Linked DNA regions of Homo sapiens. The protein of the gene in region 2 purifies or fractionates together with the protein of the main gene of each other region. This does not show direct contact. Each region holds a gene or a part of one and is shown on either strand. Other genes may lie near its edges.

Evidence for each region.
Region 1: the proteins of TNFRSF10B (region 2) and SLC15A4 purify together in Homo sapiens (affinity purification with mass spectrometry; 3 studies listed by BioGRID and IntAct, with this or other methods). This does not show direct contact.
Region 3: the proteins of TNFRSF10B (region 2) and MFAP3 purify together in Homo sapiens (affinity purification with mass spectrometry; 3 studies listed by BioGRID and IntAct, with this or other methods). This does not show direct contact.
Region 4: the proteins of TNFRSF10B (region 2) and SLC20A1 purify together in Homo sapiens (affinity purification with mass spectrometry; 2 studies listed by BioGRID and IntAct, with this or other methods). This does not show direct contact.

What each region holds. Positions count from the first base shown.
Region 1 is NC_000012.12:128,799,018-128,803,458, forward strand, and holds part of SLC15A4 (solute carrier family 15 member 4), read right to left. Parts: intron 1,993-4,441; coding exon 1,837-1,992; intron 401-1,836; coding exon 242-400; intron 48-241; exon of another isoform or gene 1-47. UniProt on the Homo sapiens protein: Proton-coupled amino-acid transporter that mediates the transmembrane transport of L-histidine and some di- and tripeptides from inside the lysosome to the cytosol, and plays a key role in innate immune response.
Region 2 is NC_000008.11:23,026,442-23,031,825, forward strand, and holds part of TNFRSF10B (tumor necrosis factor receptor superfamily member 10B isoform 1 precursor), read right to left. Parts: intron 4,432-5,384; coding exon 4,318-4,431; intron 3,281-4,317; coding exon 3,169-3,280; intron 2,162-3,168; coding exon 1,890-2,161; intron 1,313-1,889; coding exon 1,281-1,312; intron 848-1,280; coding exon 692-847; intron 1-691. UniProt on the Homo sapiens protein: Receptor for the cytotoxic ligand TNFSF10/TRAIL. The adapter molecule FADD recruits caspase-8 to the activated receptor.
Region 3 is NC_000005.10:154,045,467-154,049,907, reverse strand, and holds part of MFAP3 (microfibril-associated glycoprotein 3 isoform 1 precursor), read right to left. Parts: intron 352-4,441; 5' UTR 186-351; coding exon 1-185. UniProt on the Homo sapiens protein: Component of the elastin-associated microfibrils.
Region 4 is NC_000002.12:112,655,939-112,660,379, forward strand, and holds part of SLC20A1 (sodium-dependent phosphate transporter 1), read left to right. Parts: intron 1-1,183; coding exon 1,184-1,303; intron 1,304-2,886; coding exon 2,887-3,156; intron 3,157-3,265; coding exon 3,266-3,824; intron 3,825-4,441. UniProt on the Homo sapiens protein: Sodium-phosphate symporter which preferentially transports the monovalent form of phosphate with a stoichiometry of two sodium ions per phosphate ion. May play a role in extracellular matrix and cartilage calcification as well as in vascular calcification.

The sequences.
Region 1 (4,441 bases), on a different chromosome or scaffold from region 2:
CAGGGCAGGCTTGGCCCCTGGGATGAGAAGAGAGGCCTGCTTGTCTCCTGAAAACCGTTCATGATGTAAGGAAACACAGTGATGCAAGCAGCACAGAGCAGTGCTGTGGAAGGAGCGGTGGACAGGCAGCTCGGGACAGGCCATCCACGTGAAAACACCTCCGCTCACTCAGCCATCTCCTGAGTGCCTGCGCCTCCCCCTCACTGGCTATTTTCAAAAGGGACAGGATGCTGGCTCTTACCAAAGTCTGTGTGACTGCTCATCCATCCGATGGCTTTGATAGACACCAGTGCCAGCAGTCCAGAACCCACGAACGACCCGACGCCAGAGAAGAAAAAGAACAAGCCCATTATGGCACTCTGCATGGACTTGGGGGCAGCTGAGTATGCAAATTCCAGGCCTGAGGAAAGAAAAGGGAGGGTCGTTTTTGTGAAAGGGGCACTTTAACACATGGGATCAAAGCTTTCACCTAATATAGCAGAGGAAGCGTGGGGTCTCCTAGGGACTGAGTCCTGCAGACAGGCACAACCTCTTTTCTATTAGGAGGACGATGCTTACTAGCGACCAAGAATCAATGGCTATGGGCCAACTGTTCATTCTCCTAGCCATTAGGATAATTCCTAATAAATTCAATGAGCAGAAAGTTAAACTCCTTGCTCTCAAGCTTAAAGGTAATGTGATTTGTTGGCTCTTAGACTTTTGTGTTCCTTAAAGAGATTAGAGAAAAAATTTTCCTATATTGTCAAGGAATGGGAGTTTGAAAACAAAGTACACACACTAAACTGGGAAATCTACATAAGGATTCTATTTCAGAGGCAATATACTTTATCTTTTTTTTGTTGAGACGGAGTTTTGCTCTTGTTGCCCAGGCTGGAGTGCAATGGCAGGATCTTGGCTCACCGCAACTTCCGCCTCCCTGGTTCAAGCGATTCTCCTGCCTCAGCCTCCCGAGTAGCTGGGATTACAGGTGCGTGCCACCATGCCTGGCTAATTTTTTGTATTTTTAGTAGAGACAGGGATTCACCATGTTGGCCAGGCTGGTCTCGAACTCCTGACCTCAGGTGATCCACCCGCCTCGGATTCCTAAAGTGCTGGGGTTACAGGTATGAGCCACCGTGACAAGGGCAATAGACTTCAAAACTATTTTGGCAGGCCCATCTATAAATTTAGATTTTTATAACTAGACACGGAGATTTGTAGTGTATTCTAAATAGAAGTCCATTCCGTTGTGATTTATTCCCTTTACAAATTCATTAGCCAATTCTGGATGAGTTTTCTACAGTGAAAACCACCACTGACTACTACCCACACATCCATCCACCTCTGCATATCACTCATCTTCTCTTCTCTCTCACTCTCAGCAGCCGGACAGATCTGCCCAGAATACACTTGTTCAACCACTGCAGGATCTCACTAATAGGAAAAGGGAGGCCTGTGAGAACACGTTTCTAAAAATTAGATCTGCTTCTTTACGTACATCTAAACGAAGCGCACTGAGAGCTGTGAGCTCAGCCCAGCCACCACGGCAGCATGGCCGAGGGCTCCGCTGGGAACTATCCAACCACGATTGCTTTCTTCTTCTCTGTCCTGTGGCACTTACAAGGTAGTTAACAAACTTTCATGAAAATATTTTGCGATACTGTTTTTACACAAAGAATGGAGAACCTCAGCACTGGTGTGTTTACCTAGCGATTCATATTCTAAACCACACACTGCCAAAAACTACAGAAGTGCTGTGCTATCCTTGTCTCAACATATTCCAACAGCACAGTCAGAATGCCCGAGCGCTCACGCTTGTGCCTGGACTCAGACACCTCCGGCACTAAAGGTCCTCACCTGCGATACTTGCAAAGATCTCGCTGATCCCAATCAGCAAGTACTGCGGCACCTGCCACCACAGCGACAGATCGGCAGCATGGTAGACGACGTTGCCGATGGTCTGATTAATGGTTTTCTCTTTAACAAGGTTCAGCCTTTTACTCTCCAAAATTCCTAGAATTCAAAAGTAGGTTAGTGTAATATTCATTTATTAACATTTACAGTTAATCTAAAAATCTGATGTTGGCTACGAGACTTCGTAGCAAACGTGATTCTGATGCGTGAAAGGACCACGTCTAATCACAGCTTCCCCCAGGACTAATAGGCCCCCAGCCTTCAGCCTCCTAAGCAGGCTGAGTGGAGGTCATGGCATAGCACACCTATTTCACTTCGGCTTTTTACAGCATCTTATATAAAATCAGATGTTCAACATGTTTCATTTAATCCTCAAATATCTGGATTGCTCACCCATACCTCGTTTGTCTCTTACAAAGGGGAGTAGGAGAAAGTTAAAAAGTCCTACTGTAGAATTAACAGTAGTGCTATTTTACCCAACAGCAGGTAATACTGAGATGTTCTTCCAATCATAGTGATGGATCGAAGGTGATCTACTGATTTATTATTATAACAACAAATGATGATAATAATGATGATGATGATGTTGGTTTCCCTGCATAGGGTAGGCTTAATCTTTGCAACAAAGTAAGCTGACTTCACAAATCAACCTGTGCTCTCAGCAGCATTGAGATCTCACTGCAGGTGCAGGCTAAGTTACTGGTCACCTATCAAGTGTAACAGAAAGACATGAGAAAAACAAGCAAGGGCAGCAGCTCCTACTCTATAAACAAAAATCAGCCACTGGAAATAAAGTGTAAAAGCATCTATTCGCAGGTCCAAGTCCTTAGGTTAAAGATACCACCAAGTTTTATTTTATAAAGAATTCTTATTGCAAATTAGGTCACAGGCCCTAATATTTAAAGCGTATGTAAAATATGTTTATTTTAAAACATGAGTATGAAGAAAGGTCTGGTCAGAGGGCAATGGAATGAAAATATTAAAAATGTTCCTTCTAAAACCTGAGCATGAGAAAGGACCAGGATATGATCCATAGGGCGATGAGAACACAAACTCTGGAATTTCCACCTCAAATCTCAACTGAAATGCCAAGCAAAGTGAAAACATTCTCCAGGATCAAAGTAGAGAGAGACCTTCGAGCCAACCCACAGCTTACTTCCATCAGAAAACCTGCAGCCCCACCCTGGAAGAGTGTCAAGGGAAACCCAATCCTTCCACTCCGCCCTCCACGGGAGAAACATAAACGCAGACCCAGGCAAGGACAGCAAACTATTTAGAGCCCTTAGTTGTTCTGGAAAGGGCATCTGAGGGCATCTTAATCAGGCAAGGCTGGTAGTGACAATAGGGACTGTCCCCAAATGACAGCCTTCCTCCCGACAGGGCAGCTGACAGCAACCATAGCACTGCACCCCTAGCCCTGGCATCAGCGCCTTCAAACACGAAGAATGAACTGTGTGACAATGGCTTCCCCTAGACACCCAAGGTCCTCAGCTCCCACCTGCTCCCCTGGGACCATAGCTGACTACACTGGTCCCCACTCCTTGAATGGGAACAGAACCTATGCAACTCAAGCAGAAATTCAGGTCTATTTTGGAAATAAACACGAAAGCTGAATACCACTTTTCTCCTTCACAGGAGAGGAGGAGAGCCTAAGGATGACACCAAAGTGTCTGCAGGGGGCGGGACAAGGGAAGGTTACTCATGCGGAGGACAATAAGTAGATTTTATAACCTGAATGGGAAAGATACTACTATTGCTACTGGCATAGTTCTACCAGAGAACTTGTCTTATTATTCAAGAAAACACAGACTCTGAAGACTAAGGATGAAAAAGGTAACAAAGAAATTAAGGGGACGTTGGCTTAAGAGAGACACAAATGATGAGATCAAGAATTAGGAGAAGAGAAAATGAGAAAATAAATAGGCCTGATTATTGGTGAGGCTGTTGGCAGAGAGATGAGCAGCGGCAAAGGCGCACACACAGCCAACACTGCGGAAACCAGGATCGGGACGGGTGCCCCCAGTCACGAGCGAGGCGGAGAGGCAAAGCCAATGGGGAAAATGACCCTGCCTGTGAACAACTGAGAGCCCTGGAGAGGCTGGGACAGGCCGAAAAGCAGCAGGGTTCAGGCTGAGTGACAGTGACATGGCAAGCGGGCACCCAGTAAAAACAAGCATGGGATGCGACGCTGGATAATCAACACAGCAGTCAGGATAAATGAGCCAAATCCTTCAGATAAAAGTCATCCACTTGTATCAGTTCAAAAAATAAACAAAACTGAGTATTACGGTTAATACACAGAACTAAAGCATAATATAACCCAAAGATTGTAAATAAAGGAGAGGACAGGCCAGGATGTATCAGACAAACAATCATAAAGGGAAGAGGTGTCAACAAAAATACCAAGAAGAGAGAAAAAGAATCAAAAACCAAAATAACCAATAGGTGCCATGTATGAATTGTTCCTTGTGTGATGAGCCGCTTTTGTTGATGGATTCACAGACAGCACCTCATTTATTATTCACAGTAAGCTGGGGGGAGAAATAAC
Region 2 (5,384 bases):
TTCTCAGCTTATATTGAATCGAAAATTCAATTCTGTTTAGATTATATTGCTGTATGTTAAAAATCAAATCATTAAAAATAAAACACTGCAGGAAACTGGATAGTCTCATCTTATGTTCGAGGGAAGGACTTTCAGTGCTTACGAGCAATGAACAATAAATGTATATACAGATTTCCTGCCTACTCAATATCACATCAAAACTGATGGATTGATATGAACTGATTGTGTGCGTGTGTCCAATACAAAAGCCCTTTGTGCATCGACTTGGAATCCTACTTTTTGGAAGCTGCCCTACGAACTTTGAAATATGTTCAATGTAATAACAATTTCAGAGTAAATTTAAAACTCCTGCTGTTACAAGCAAGGGCTCACTGACTTCTGTTAGGAGCATACGATGGAGACTGTGCAGCCTTATTCACTCATCAATGAACCCTGTGACCCCCACTCTATGCCTGTGGAGCTCCAGGCTCGGGGGACACAGCAAGGACAGGACAGGGAGTAAGAAGCAGATGTCCTGCAGACTGGCACGGTCACCACCTCAGTGCAGCTGCTCCATCCCCTGCAGTCCCCTGGCTCCTTCAGGTTCCATTTCCCCTGGGCCAGGAGAGCTAAGGCACTGCCCTCTCCCACTGTCTACGAAATCCCAGGTGAGCAGCATGCCAGGAAACAAAATGATCTGTCCCCCACTCACCAGCAGATGCTCTGACTCCCCGGGGGACAACATGTTGACACCTGTTGGCTCTGCTGGCTCCTGGACTTCCATTTCCTGCTCAGGGACCTGGGTGGGCTGCAAGATACTCACGATCTCATTGAGGACATTGTCCTCAGCCCCAGGTCGTTGTGAGCTCTGGAAAAAGACATTGGGAAGGCAAAAAGCCGACTCAGGAGTCCACACCTAGGGCTCGCTGCAGGGTCCTCAGTATGCAGCTGCACCTGACATCCCCACCCCCTCTCAGTGAGGTCACCGCAGGCAGCCCAGACTCAGCACATCCAGGACCCGCTGCTGGGGCCAGGCCCCCAGTGCTGTGCTCAGGCAGACACCCCATCCCTAGGGTGCAGGCTGTGGGGTGAGGATGTCACCTGGGCTGCAGCAGGGCTCACCAGCCTATGTGGTGCTCAAAATGGCCATGTGTCCCCCACAGTCAGCCCAGAGCACCCAGGCCACTTCAGAGAGTCAGGGCAGCCATGAGGACAATGGGGACCCACCCACCCAGGTTCTGCTGTCCCAGGAAGCAGTTCCTGAACCCCTGAGCCCCCAGCTCCTGGAGAAATCAACTCACTCTGTCCACACGCTCAGGGTCCCCACCACCACCTAAAAAAGAAGCAGTCTCCTTAGCAGGAAGGGAGGGGCCCATGAAGCACCCCCCTCCCAGAGGACAGTGGGGCGCAGGGCTGGGCTGGGGGCTGGGACACTGGACAAGGAGCCCTGGGGCTGGGGACAGAATGGGGCCTTACAACTCAGAGACACCCTGAGGAAGGGGGATGAGAAGGGGAACTAGAGTAAAAACAAACACTTGGAAAATCTCTGGTTCTGCTCTGACCAAGGCTGAAAAAATCCCACGACCACTTCTCATCCTCACCCTTGTCACCCAGTTGAGGAGCCGACTGCCCCCTGCCTGGCTGGGCCTGAAGATGGGAGGAACTGGCCCTGCCCTCCTGGACTTGGCTGGGAGATATGGGGACCCCCAGACCTGGGAGAGGGACTGAAGAGACCAGGGTCCTGGGGGGTGCACGGGATGTGGGGATGGGGGTGACCACGAGGAGGAGGATAGAGCCAGGCTGGAGGCACTTAGACTTGGGGCAGGGGCAGGCGTTTCTGTCTGTGGGAATAGGGTGGGAGGGGGCAGGGCAGAGAGTGCCCTGTGCCCCCGCCCTCAGCCAGCACCTACCTGAGCAGATGCCTTTCAGGTAAGGAAGGACTTTCTTCCACAGTAAAGACTTGCAAACAAACACAGCCACAATCAAGACTACGGCTGCAACTGTGACTCCTATGATGATGCCTGAGAGAGAACAGGGAGAGGCAGGAGTCCCTGGGCTGGAGGTCACCGTCTCCTCCACAGCTGGGACTTCCCCACTGTGCTTTGTACCTGATTCTTTGTGGACACATTCGATGTCACTCCAGGGTGTACAATCACCGACCTTGACCATCCCTCTGGGACACCTGGGTACACACACAGAGGGAGAGGGGGGACTCTTGATGGAAAGCTGGCCAGGTGGGATGAAAGAGGAGCCACCCTCCCTCCCCAGTGTCCCTGAGAAGGTGTCAGGGGAAGGACAGTCTCCTCGTGTCAGCAGTGGGTCCCCCTGTGCTCCCTTCTTGAGGCTGGGGAAGGGTCTGAGCATGCGCACTTCAGCCCCTCGGCCTCCCTGCTCTGGGGTCAGAGCTGCAGTTCCAGGAGCCTTCTGTGCTGGGCACACACTGAGCTTCCCTGGGCTGCAGGGGAGGCCTGCGTTAGGAGCAATCACACTCCAGGGGAAGGTCACAAGCCCGTGTGGCCACAAGATGAGTCCGGTCTTCCAGTCAACCACAAAAGTGAGCTCTTGTCCCCAGCTGTCTGCCCATTTCCCCCAATCACAGCAAATACTAGGGGGGCCAGAGAAGAGCAAATTACTCTTGGCCCCTAAAACCCAAATAGGGAAAAGACAGGTCTTACTGAGGGATCAGGGGCCAGGGGTGAGGCCGGCTGGGTGGGCTCAGGTCCTCATGGGAACTTGAAGGAGCTCCACCCATGGCCTTATTATGCCTTTTGTGGGCCATGGGCACTTTTGTCTTTATGGGCCCCTGCATGCATAAAAATATTAAAAAATACATTTTATTGCTGAATTGGTATAAAGATGAATATATGCCTGGCTGCATTCTACTCATTCTTCTTATTTCAAGAGAAATTAAATCATTTCATGGGCCCCTAAAATTATCATGGGCCCCAAGTCATGGCCTTCTGTGGTCAGTGAACAAGTCAGCCTGGTCAAGGGGACTCGTGCTGGGGAGGGGTGGAAAGAGGCTGCTGCAGGGGGCAGGGGTGGTGACACGCAGAGGGACCAGGAGGGGCAGCCACAGCCTCAAGGATGCCCCTTGCGGGTGCTGTCAGGGGAGAGACAGGGGTACAAGGAGACTTGGGTCTTTTGGGGTTCCATGGAGCTACTGGGAGCCCCCGGCTCCTGTCTCACCCTGTGCGGCACTTCCGGCACATCTCAGGAGAATCTTCTTCCCGGAAGGTGCCTTCTTCGCACTGACACACTGTGTTTCTGGTCGTGGTGCAGGGACTTAGCTCCACTTCACCTGACGACAGAGCATAAGGTTTTGGGAATGTGTTTTCCTGATGTGTCCCTTGACCCTTCCTCCCCACCCCAAGACCCTGCTACTCAGCTCAACTCAGTTTGCCAAGGAGTTCTGAGGGCCAGTTTCTGCACCAGCACACTCATGGCTCATTCAGGATACCCACCCTTCAGCTGTCACTAACACTCGTTGAGTCATACAAAAGGACCACAGTTCATTATTTATTACATTAGATTAGGGGAAAGCACCGTTTAGGGGACAAGCATCGTTTAGATTGCATGGCCAGTAGCAAGGGAAGTGCAAGGGATCACCTGAGAGACTGCAAGGAGAGGAGCCCTTGGGGGACTTCCCCAAGGCCCAGCCTGCTGGGGAGGAGGGAGAGGCCTGAGAACCTGAAGGGTGAGTGAGGCCGAGCACCTGCCAGGAGCACAGAGCCCAGGGGAGAGAGCCTGGCCCCAAAGCAGACCTGTGCCACTGCTGAGATCCAGCCCTGTCCACTTGGCCTGGCTCATGGCCCCACCCCCTTGCAGCTGACAGTTTAAAAGATTTCCTTACCATGTAGCATACATTATACAAATAATTTCTGTATTATTATTATTTTAATTAATTATTGAGACAGGGTTTTGCTCTGTTGCCTGGGCTGGAATGCAGTGGCACAATCTCGGCTCCCTGCAACCTCGGCCTCCTGGGCTCAAGAGATCCTTCTGCCTCAGCTTCCTAAGTAGCTGGAAATACAGGCACGCGCCACCATGCCCGGCTAATGTTTATATTTTTGTAGAGACGGGGTTTCTCATGTTGCCCAGGATGGTTTCAAACTCCTGGGCTCAAGTGATGCCTCCCAAAGTGTTGAGATTACAGGCATGAGCCACTGTGCCGGGCCTGTTTTATTTATTAAAAAGCTCAAAGACAAAATCATGGAACATGGTATGATGAAGACCAAGGTGGACCAGAATCTAGGTCTCCTGATCCCATTTTAGCTACAACTTTTATGTCATCACCCCGCATTCCACCTTTAGGCATGGGGTCCATATGTTCTGTACCTGAATCACACCTGGTGCAGCGCAAGCAGAAAAGGAGGTCATTCCAGTGAGTGCTATAGTCCTGTCCATATTTGCAGGAGATGCAATCTCTACCGTCTTCTGAGATATGGTGTCCTGGGAGGGGAGAGAAAAGCCGGTGAATGAAATGCCACAGGATTCCCAGAAGCTGGCAGTGGTGGCTGGGGGACTCCTCTTTCAGGGATGTGTGGAACCAAAAGAGGGAAATCTCCTCTACCTAGCTTGGTCAGTTCATCAATTCTGCATTTACACACCTTAAACCAGCACTGCCAAAAGAAATATAAGCCACACATTTATTTATTTTATTTTTTATTTTTGAGACGTAGTCTCACTCTGTCACCCAGGCTGGAGTGCAGTGGCGTGATCTCGGCTCACTGCAACCTCCGCCTCCTGGGTTCAAGAGATTCTCCTGGCTCAGCCTCCTGAGTAGCTGGGATTACAGGCACACACTACCACACCTGGCTAATTTTTGTATTTTTTTAGTAGAGACAGGGTTTCACCGTATTGGCCAGGCTAGTCTCGATCTCCTGACCTCATGATCTGCCTGCCTAGGCCTCCCAAAGTGCTGGGATTACAGGCGTGAGCCACTGCACCCGGCCTATTTATTTATTTATTTATTTATTTATTTATTTATTTAGACAGGGTCTTGCTCTATAGCCCAGGCTGGAGTGCAGTGGTGTGATCTCAGCTCACTGCACCCTCGACCTCCCGGACCCTCCCTCTCCCCCCGACCCACAAATAGCTGGGACTACAGGTGCACACCACCACACCGGGTTAATTTTTAGTGTACTTTTTTTTTGTAGAGACGAGGTTTCACCATGTTGCCTAGGCTGGTCTCAAACTCCTGGGCTCAAGTGATTCACTCTCCTTGGACTCCCAAGGTGCTAGGAATACAGGTGTCAGCCACTGTGCCCAGCCCACATATGAAATTTAAATCCACACTCAGCACATTAAAAAAGGTGAGAAGGGGTGAAATTAATGTTAATAATGCATTTTAATTTAATGTACCCCAGATAATATCACTTAAATATGTAATCCACATAAAACAT
Region 3 (4,441 bases), on a different chromosome or scaffold from region 2:
ATGATGACATCATCATCCGAGTGGGAACTTGCTGAGAGTTCAAAGCTTGAGGGAAAGGATGCATTGTAAGAACTACGATTTGCTTCCAGTGAAACCATTTGGTCGAAGTCCACATCTTCCAAAACAAAAGCAGCTGGCACAATAATACTTGCCACTAAAGTGAATAAGCAACAATGTAGCTTCATGGGAAAATGGGACAAAATCTTGTTTAGATTTGGAGAACTCAAAAACTTCTACACTACAACAAAAGCACAGCGGGTAATTTATTGCTTGGTAGAGAAATTTTCCAAACAAGTGGTAGATCCAGTTATATTTTCTAGTCTTCAAGATTAAAAGATGTGAGTAGAGAACCTAAAAGAAAGCCAGATACAAAGTTTAACCAACTGAGATTCATAATGGGGTGAAAGTGCGTATGTTCCAGAATGAATAGATGTTAATTAGAATAATTGGTGCTGACATTGGGGAGTAATTAGATGGAACAGTACCTAAAAATCTCACACAGAGACAGCAGAAAAAGCAATGAATTGGTAAATAGCAGACCTAGATTTTGGTCCTAGCTTTGCCACTAACTAGCTGTACGACCTTGGCAAGCAGCATTCTCTCTGGGTTTCTGTTTTCTCCTCTGTCAAATAAGGGACTGGATGAGATAATCTCTAAGGACTCTTCCAATTCTGAAATGCCATGATTCTATTTCATTCTGACAAATTTTATGCAACAGGGAGCCAATGAAGGCTAAAATATTTATCTTAATGATCTTTTATTTCAACCTGCACCATTACCATCTGTTGTTATAATGTAAATCAACTGGCATATCATAATCATAACCATGGAGCTCAAAATTTGAGTAATTCAAGTATGAAGATATGTTACATATAAATAATGCAGGGACACCTGAGGTGGGTTGTTTTAACACTGGAAAGAAAGCTGCACTTACTGCATACACATAAATAGAGTTATTGACTTCTAAAGCTATGGAACCTCCTTCATGGGCAAGAACATTAGACAACAGAATTTTCTTTTAATAGTTTCTCCAATACGAAGAGACAAAGTACAGTGTATTTAATAGTTTGTAAGCATACCAAATTTCTAGCTCAAACTCTGTAAACTAGCTAAGGGAGGAACTGACATCTTAAGTGTCTAGTTAGTAGAAATGCAAATATAAAACTACAGGGACAGATTGTTAGACACATTTAAAAGAAGAGCAAAATATCTTGAATAAAAGGCAAAATAACATCCTAGTCCAAAAGTCTATGTATTTATGATCACCTTCCTGGTAATTTGACTCCCCCTTTAAGCCACCAACTCTCAAAGAAAAAATTCAACTTTTATTTCTATAAAATATGGGATGAAATGCCTAGCTTTATGTCTTATAAAGCACCAAGATAATTAGTTTTGGAAATGACATTTACTCTCCTTTATATTTATATGAAGGCTGCTTGATCACAGAACATAAAAAACAATGAATCACTGTATTTTGCCATTAAATATCTCAAAGTCTAAATTACAATACGGTGCAAATGTCATTTAATTTTCATTAATTAACCCTTGAAAGGATGGTTGAATGGTGACAAATACTTTTCTAAATCTTTACAATTTAAGGATGGGGTATACAGAGTAAAATAAAAAACCTTCAGACTTTGGCAATACATGACACACTAAACGTGTTTATTTCCATTTCCTCCTAAAACCGCACAAAAAGGACACTAAAGGAAACAAAGACTTAGGCAGAGAGGGGATTTTGGAAGTAATATAATCTAATTGATTCAGTGCACAGTGATTTGCTTCTTACGACATGCTACAAGTTAGTAGGAGAATCTAGTTTGGAATACAGTCTCTTTTTTAAGAGGGGGTGATGGGTAGAAACAATGGAAATAACATTTATTGAATGACTGCCATCAGCCAAGCACTGTGCTAGGGGCTTGACATGTAAGTTTCCAAGCTCTTTTTCACTGCAAGATATACAGCAATTGGAGGACATAATTTTGTACTTTATTCTAGATTAGTGGTTCTCAACGGTGACAGGCTATGAGTGTGCTGAAAAAATGCTCCAGGCTTTCTCCAGAACTTTGATTAGGAGTTCCTATAGCTTCATCCAGGGCAGCACTTCCCAAACTTCATTCATTCCTTCTCCTGTCTTTTTTGTTGTTGTTGTTTTTACTATATCCATGAACCAAATTATCGTCATTTCTGCTTTTCTTTTAAATCAACTCATTTTATTTTTACTTTCACATTTATTTAAAAAGGAAACTCTACATCAGTTCTGTGGACAAATGTAACCGTACACATAAACATAATGAAAACAAAGAAGTGTTATTAGCTTCCAGAGATACTACTGCCTGCTGAAAGGCTTTGAGCTGGAGGCTTGCTCTCTCTGTAGTAAAACCAAAACCAAAACAAAAAGCCCCCCACAACTCCAGTTTATTTTAATGCCACCTCATTTCTTAACCTGCCATCTCCTTCCTTTCTACTCTTCCCCACCACTGAGTTTGAGATCGGAGGGATACATTTTCATATACTGAACAGTATCTATTGAGCACCTACCATGTGCCTACCTACTGCCCCATAGACATTGTCTCGGCCTCCACGAAGTTCAGTCTGGCAGATGATGGACACTAACTACATATATACAAAATAAACTCAATGTTACCCAAGGGAAAATACAGATGCTACAGGAGGACCCAACATGGGGAGTTAATCTCATCATGGAAAGCCTCTGAGAAAAAGAGGTGTGCAGCACCTATTCTTCAGGTGCAGGACCTGAAGAATAAAGAGGAATAAAAATTGGGAGGAAAGCACTCAAGGTAGAGGGCCAGGAGACAGGGAAAAATGAGAGGGGTCACTGGTCAGGAGTTGTTCACAAAAAACAGCTAAAAAATTGTGGTAAAGACAGGCAGTGGCCAAAAATGCTGCGTCTGATTCCTGATTCTGGAGGAGAACTAACTGGGCCAATGGTGAAACTGGAGATAGACTCCGGAAGCTGCAGTGGCTGAAGTGAGTGAGGGAGATATTCGTCCATGATGAAGACGTCAAACAACTGAGAGGCTCAAACGTGGGCAGATCACCTGGGGGTATGGTCACATCCCCCCAGGATCAAAGTAGCTAGTGTAGAAGAAACTGGAAAGAAAGGAAATGGATTCGGTCTTCCTGCTCTGAGATTCAGGAACTTCAGCAGAATGAACAGCTGTCACAGGCGAGGGCTGCAGGGCAATGAGTGTCCTCACCAACACAAGGCTTGGCAAAGCATAACTCCCACATGGAATTCTGCCTTCCCGCAAACTTCCTGAACCTCCTATCAAGGCCTTAGCTATTCCTCCTACATAAATTCAGAGTATAGCTGTATAAAGGATGGCTTCTCCTTCACCCCAGAGCCCTCCCCACCTACCGTACTCATCTGGCGCTGGTATATGCTGCTCTGTACTGCTAGGCAGTCTATCCCATCTCAACTACCCCTTAAGAACAAGGCCTATATTTTTTATTGCTGTACGTCATAACTAGCACATGCTCAATAAATATTGATGGAGATTAGTTTAAATTTGATTCAGTATGTGACAGATCTTTATAAATTGAATAATGTTATGCAACAGGGATTATAATTGTTCAAACTGACATACAGTTGCCTATTATAAATTCTCTGAAACAAAAACAGTCAATGCTAACAATCTTGGAAGACCTTAAAAGTACCTAATTAAATGCATTCTTCCGACTCCCAACCTGATACCTTCATTTACCATGTTGTCCTAGAGGATAATGGTAGGAATAAAAGATCACCAAGTGCAGTTTCCAAACCAGGTTGAATATCACAACTGTCAGGAGAGCTTTTTAAAAATATGGATTCCCAGGTCCCAACCCAGAACGAGTAAGAAACTCTGTGTTTGCGCCTTGGAATTTATGACTTTTAATTGGCTCCCTGGGTGTTTCTGAGGCATTGGATTCATGTACTGCATCTAAGGGCCACTAATACAGTTCCTCAATTTCCTCTGCAACTGACCTGCAGAATGGTGCTTCAGGCTATTTGAATATTTCCAATGAGAGATATAATCACTCACATTCCATTCTAGATTTAGATTACTCTAGATCAGCAAAATTGAAGGTCTCTAATAAGAGCAGGGTAGCAGAGAGGTTCAGAGTATAGGATTCAAATACGATCTGTGACTCTAACCAGCCTTGCAACTTTTATAAATGACTTAATCTCCCTGCCTCAGCCCCTCATCTTTAAAATGGGCAAAATAACAGAATCTATTCTCACAGGATTATTGCAAAGTCTGAATGAGGTAGTATACATAAAACACAGAGTCTGGCAATGGTAATCACTGAATAAGCTCTATTATTATTGTTCATGGTTCTTTCAGATATTGAACTAAAATTTACATTTGATAGTTACATCATTATAAAACACTCAGAATACCATGCAACCATTTAAAAATCTTGGGGGTTGGGGGGA
Region 4 (4,441 bases), on a different chromosome or scaffold from region 2:
GCTCCACCTGTCTCAGCCTCCCAAAGTGCTGGGATTACAGGTGTGAGCCACTGTGCCTGGCCAGTGCTTTACTTCTGTCTTTAGTACAGGCTAATGGTTTGGAGCCTACTGGCGTGCATATGACAGTCAGATAATGACTAATATTACTCATTCTTAAACCATGTGAACAGTGTTGCTAGGCAAGTCTTTTTTTAAGGTAAGACTTGTAAGTGAAATTACCACTAAACTTTGTGTGTGAGAAAGACAAAACTTTTTTTTTTTTTTTTTTTTTTTTTGAGACAAAGTCTGACTTTGTCACCCAGGCTGGAGTGCAGTGGCGCAATCTCAGCTCACTGCAACCTCCGCCCTGCCAGGTTCAAGTGATTCTCCCACCTCAGCCTCCCGAGTAGCTGGGACTACAGGCGCCCACCACCATGCCCGGCTAATTTTTTTTTGTATTTTTAGTAGAGATGGGGTTTTGCCATGTTGGGCAGGCTGGTCTCGAACTCCTGACCTCAAGTGATCTGCCTGCCACGGCCTCCCAAAGTGCTGGGATTACAGGCATGAGCCACCGTGCCTGGCTGAAAGACAAAGCTTTTACAACTATTCTTAAATTATCAACTTTTGATAGATAATATCCTTGTTTTCTGTATCTTGCTTTGATACTGCTTTCAAGGAGATAATCTCATTAAAGCATTTTACTAAAGGCCAGTATAGTGAATGTAATCACTTTTACACAGAATTGTGTCAGCATGACAAATGTGACTACTGAGACATCATTCTGTTAACATTAAAATAAGTTTGTAGGTGGTAATGGAATATGTGGCAGTTACGATCATGAGCTAGGAGAGTGGAACACTTGCTGTCTTTTTCATAGCTAGTCATAGGTCCTTAGCGTGTAGTGATCTTTATTATCTTCCAAGGTGAAGAAAGGAAAAGGCTCGTATGTTGAGAAGCATAGGAACTTGAGTCCCGCAGGTGTTCAAGTGGGCTAGGCTGGTGTGGGTTTTCAGATGATCATTGAGTTTTTCTCCCAAATTTGTATAGGCACTAGCACAGTAATCCTGTGCACTTAAATCTGGCAGCAGCTGTCAGGGGTGATGGGCTGGTATGGGGAACCCCTCAGTCCCCAGAGGAGGGTTTACACAATATTGCAGGGGGCTGTTGCCCTGGGGTTTTCAAGATGCACCATTTTATCTCCTAGTGCTGGGCTTTGACAAACTTCCTCTGTGGGGTACCATCCTCATCTCGGTGGGATGTGCAGTTTTCTGTGCCCTTATCGTCTGGTTCTTTGTATGTCCCAGGATGAAGAGAAAAATTGAACGTAAGTAATAACTAAACAGCAGAAAAGTTTAACTACTAATGTTGTGTTTATTTTTTATTTGGCCACCTGTAAAAATCTATTAGAAGAGATTGGCAAAATAAGAGATTTTAAAGGGAAATTTGAGGATATGGGTTTGTTGTCCAAACTGTTTTTAGAAATGGACTTACATGACCTAAGACCTGTTCTTAAAAATGGACTTACATGACCTAAGACCTAGTGATAAAGAGTATTCAACCTATGCTGTAGAGACAATCTGGGGCATTGAATTTTTTTATGTTCCTTGATCAGTTGCCAGTGACATGATAGATAAATAGAGAAATCATAGCCTACATTTACTGAGAAGTAGAAGGATACCTTAATGAAAAATAAGGGGTAGATACAAGATATTTTCGTAGAGGAAATATTTACCCCAACTGCTTCTGTGTATAACTTCAGATTCAGACAAGCAAAGCTAAGTCTAATGTGTACATGTTGTATATAGGCTAGAATACATGTAGACATTGTATTGCAGTATACAATGCAAATACATATACAAACACACATTGTGTGTCTGCTAGAATTGTAGCACAGATTCTAGAAGTAAACATTTTCAAGTGTCAAGGAATCATTTAGGCCATTACCACACACTCATGTAATTAAATACTGAGTAAATTTTGGTTAGTATCGGACTTTTTTTTCCTTAAAATAATCATTTTCTGCCCTTTTCATCGATGTGAAGGCTGGGTTAGCAAGTTGAAGTTTATCGTTTCGAAGCTGAGGGATGCATAGACTGCAGTGGTGTTAGGAAGAACGCTGCGTCACCGCAGCTGAACCGAAGAGCCTCCGAGAGGTTCTGTGCTAGTCTGGCTGTGCCGAGTGCACGGTGGGAACCAGGCTTTCAGGACTCTCTGGCCTCATTTTCCCTCTCTGGGAGGAGTTGAGACAAGTCTTGCTTTATGTTAGTCAGTCTGTAGTTTGACTGAGGTGCCTGGATGGATAGGTCAGCATACTGAGCACTGGCATGAGAGAGGCAGAAGATACTCTGGTCTGCCTGTGGGATTTACAGCCATGATGCACATCTCTTTGTTTTATAGAGGTGGAAATTAAAGTTGTCGTCTTTAGTTCCCTGCATTGAGCTGTGCCACTTTGCTTGAATTGGTGGACTGAAATTTGAGAGAATCCTCTTTTGAAAAGAATAGAATTGGGTACAGTTCAGATTTTTAGTTTCAGCTTATCAGCCCCATGGTTGAGCTACTTTCCCCTACAGAATGAGTCAGCAGGGAGCTAAGAAGGGTTCTTATATCTGTAAAGGGTTGTAAAAATAAAAACAAAACAACAATGTGCTACAGAAGCCCGTAAAACCTAAAATATTTACAGAAAAATTTTGGGACCCCTGACATAGGGTGTTCTGCATTGCTGGTTGTTCCCAAGTGAGAGTTGCTGGCAAATGATAAAGCAGGCAGGAAAAATGTTCCTGAATGTTAATTGAAGTTCACATACATTCTTGTTTTGAGATGAGTTTTTTGGGGGTGGAGGAAAGGAGACGTGGAACAAAGTAGTATGGCCACAACCAAACCAAAAAAGACCCCCCTTTTTTTTCCTAGGAGAAATAAAGTGTAGTCCTTCTGAAAGCCCCTTAATGGAAAAAAAGAATAGCTTGAAAGAAGACCATGAAGAAACAAAGTTGTCTGTTGGTGATATTGAAAACAAGCATCCTGTTTCTGAGGTAGGGCCTGCCACTGTGCCCCTCCAGGCTGTGGTGGAGGAGAGAACAGTCTCATTCAAACTTGGAGATTTGGAGGAAGCTCCAGAGAGAGAGAGGCTTCCCAGCGTGGACTTGAAAGAGGAAACCAGCATAGATAGCACCGTGAATGGTGAGTTGGAATTCCTGGTTTCACTTTTGTTACCTGCAGTGGTGAGGAGGCTTATTGTTTTGGATTTGATGCTTTTTGTATTGAATGTCACCTTGGTGATCTTGACTAGGTGCAGTGCAGTTGCCTAATGGGAACCTTGTCCAGTTCAGTCAAGCCGTCAGCAACCAAATAAACTCCAGTGGCCACTACCAGTATCACACCGTGCATAAGGATTCCGGCCTGTACAAAGAGCTACTCCATAAATTACATCTTGCCAAGGTGGGAGATTGCATGGGAGACTCCGGTGACAAACCCTTAAGGCGCAATAATAGCTATACTTCCTATACCATGGCAATATGTGGCATGCCTCTGGATTCATTCCGTGCCAAAGAAGGTGAACAGAAGGGCGAAGAAATGGAGAAGCTGACATGGCCTAATGCAGACTCCAAGAAGCGAATTCGAATGGACAGTTACACCAGTTACTGCAATGCTGTGTCTGACCTTCACTCAGCATCTGAGATAGACATGAGTGTCAAGGCAGAGATGGGTCTAGGTGACAGAAAAGGAAGTAATGGCTCTCTAGAAGAATGGTATGACCAGGATAAGCCTGAAGTCTCTCTCCTCTTCCAGTTCCTGCAGATCCTTACAGCCTGCTTTGGGTCATTCGCCCATGGTGGCAATGACGTAAGGTCAGTTGACATTGATCTTAGTGTTGCTAACCCTATTTTTAAACCATTTATCCTTGTCACAGGCCTGTGCTTGTGGTAGTGGTACTCCTAGCATTTACAGGACCCCAAATAATACAAATAGGATGAGGTAATAGCAGTTATTGACATAATAAGACAGTACAGTTTTATTCTTCAGAGGAATTACAAAGAATGTTTATTTTTGTAGATGATAAATATAAACAGATACTCTTCACAGAGAAGGCTTTTGTCCATCAAGATGAGATTCAGTTCTTTGGTAGTGAATTGTGGGATGTAAGATGTAAGATGAAAAACTTAAAAGTTTTTCATATAGAATGATTTTGTAGTTTGGTTTGTAAACTGTTTATTGGAACCTGAGAGTTGCTTTAAGCTGCCTATAGGAGGAAAGAGGCCACCATTTGCCTGGCATTCCCTCCATCAGAGCTGTGTTCATTTTTCTGTTGTGTATGTTGGGGTTCCATTTATGTCTTTAGAAAGAAAGGCCCTTTTGCCAGATGAGCTTGAAAGCTGTACTTTAGACAACCTGGTAGATCATTCAGCAGATTGGGTCTTGCCAAGATCTAGTTCTGCCTGAAAAGTCACTTCTGCCCTCTTTGTTT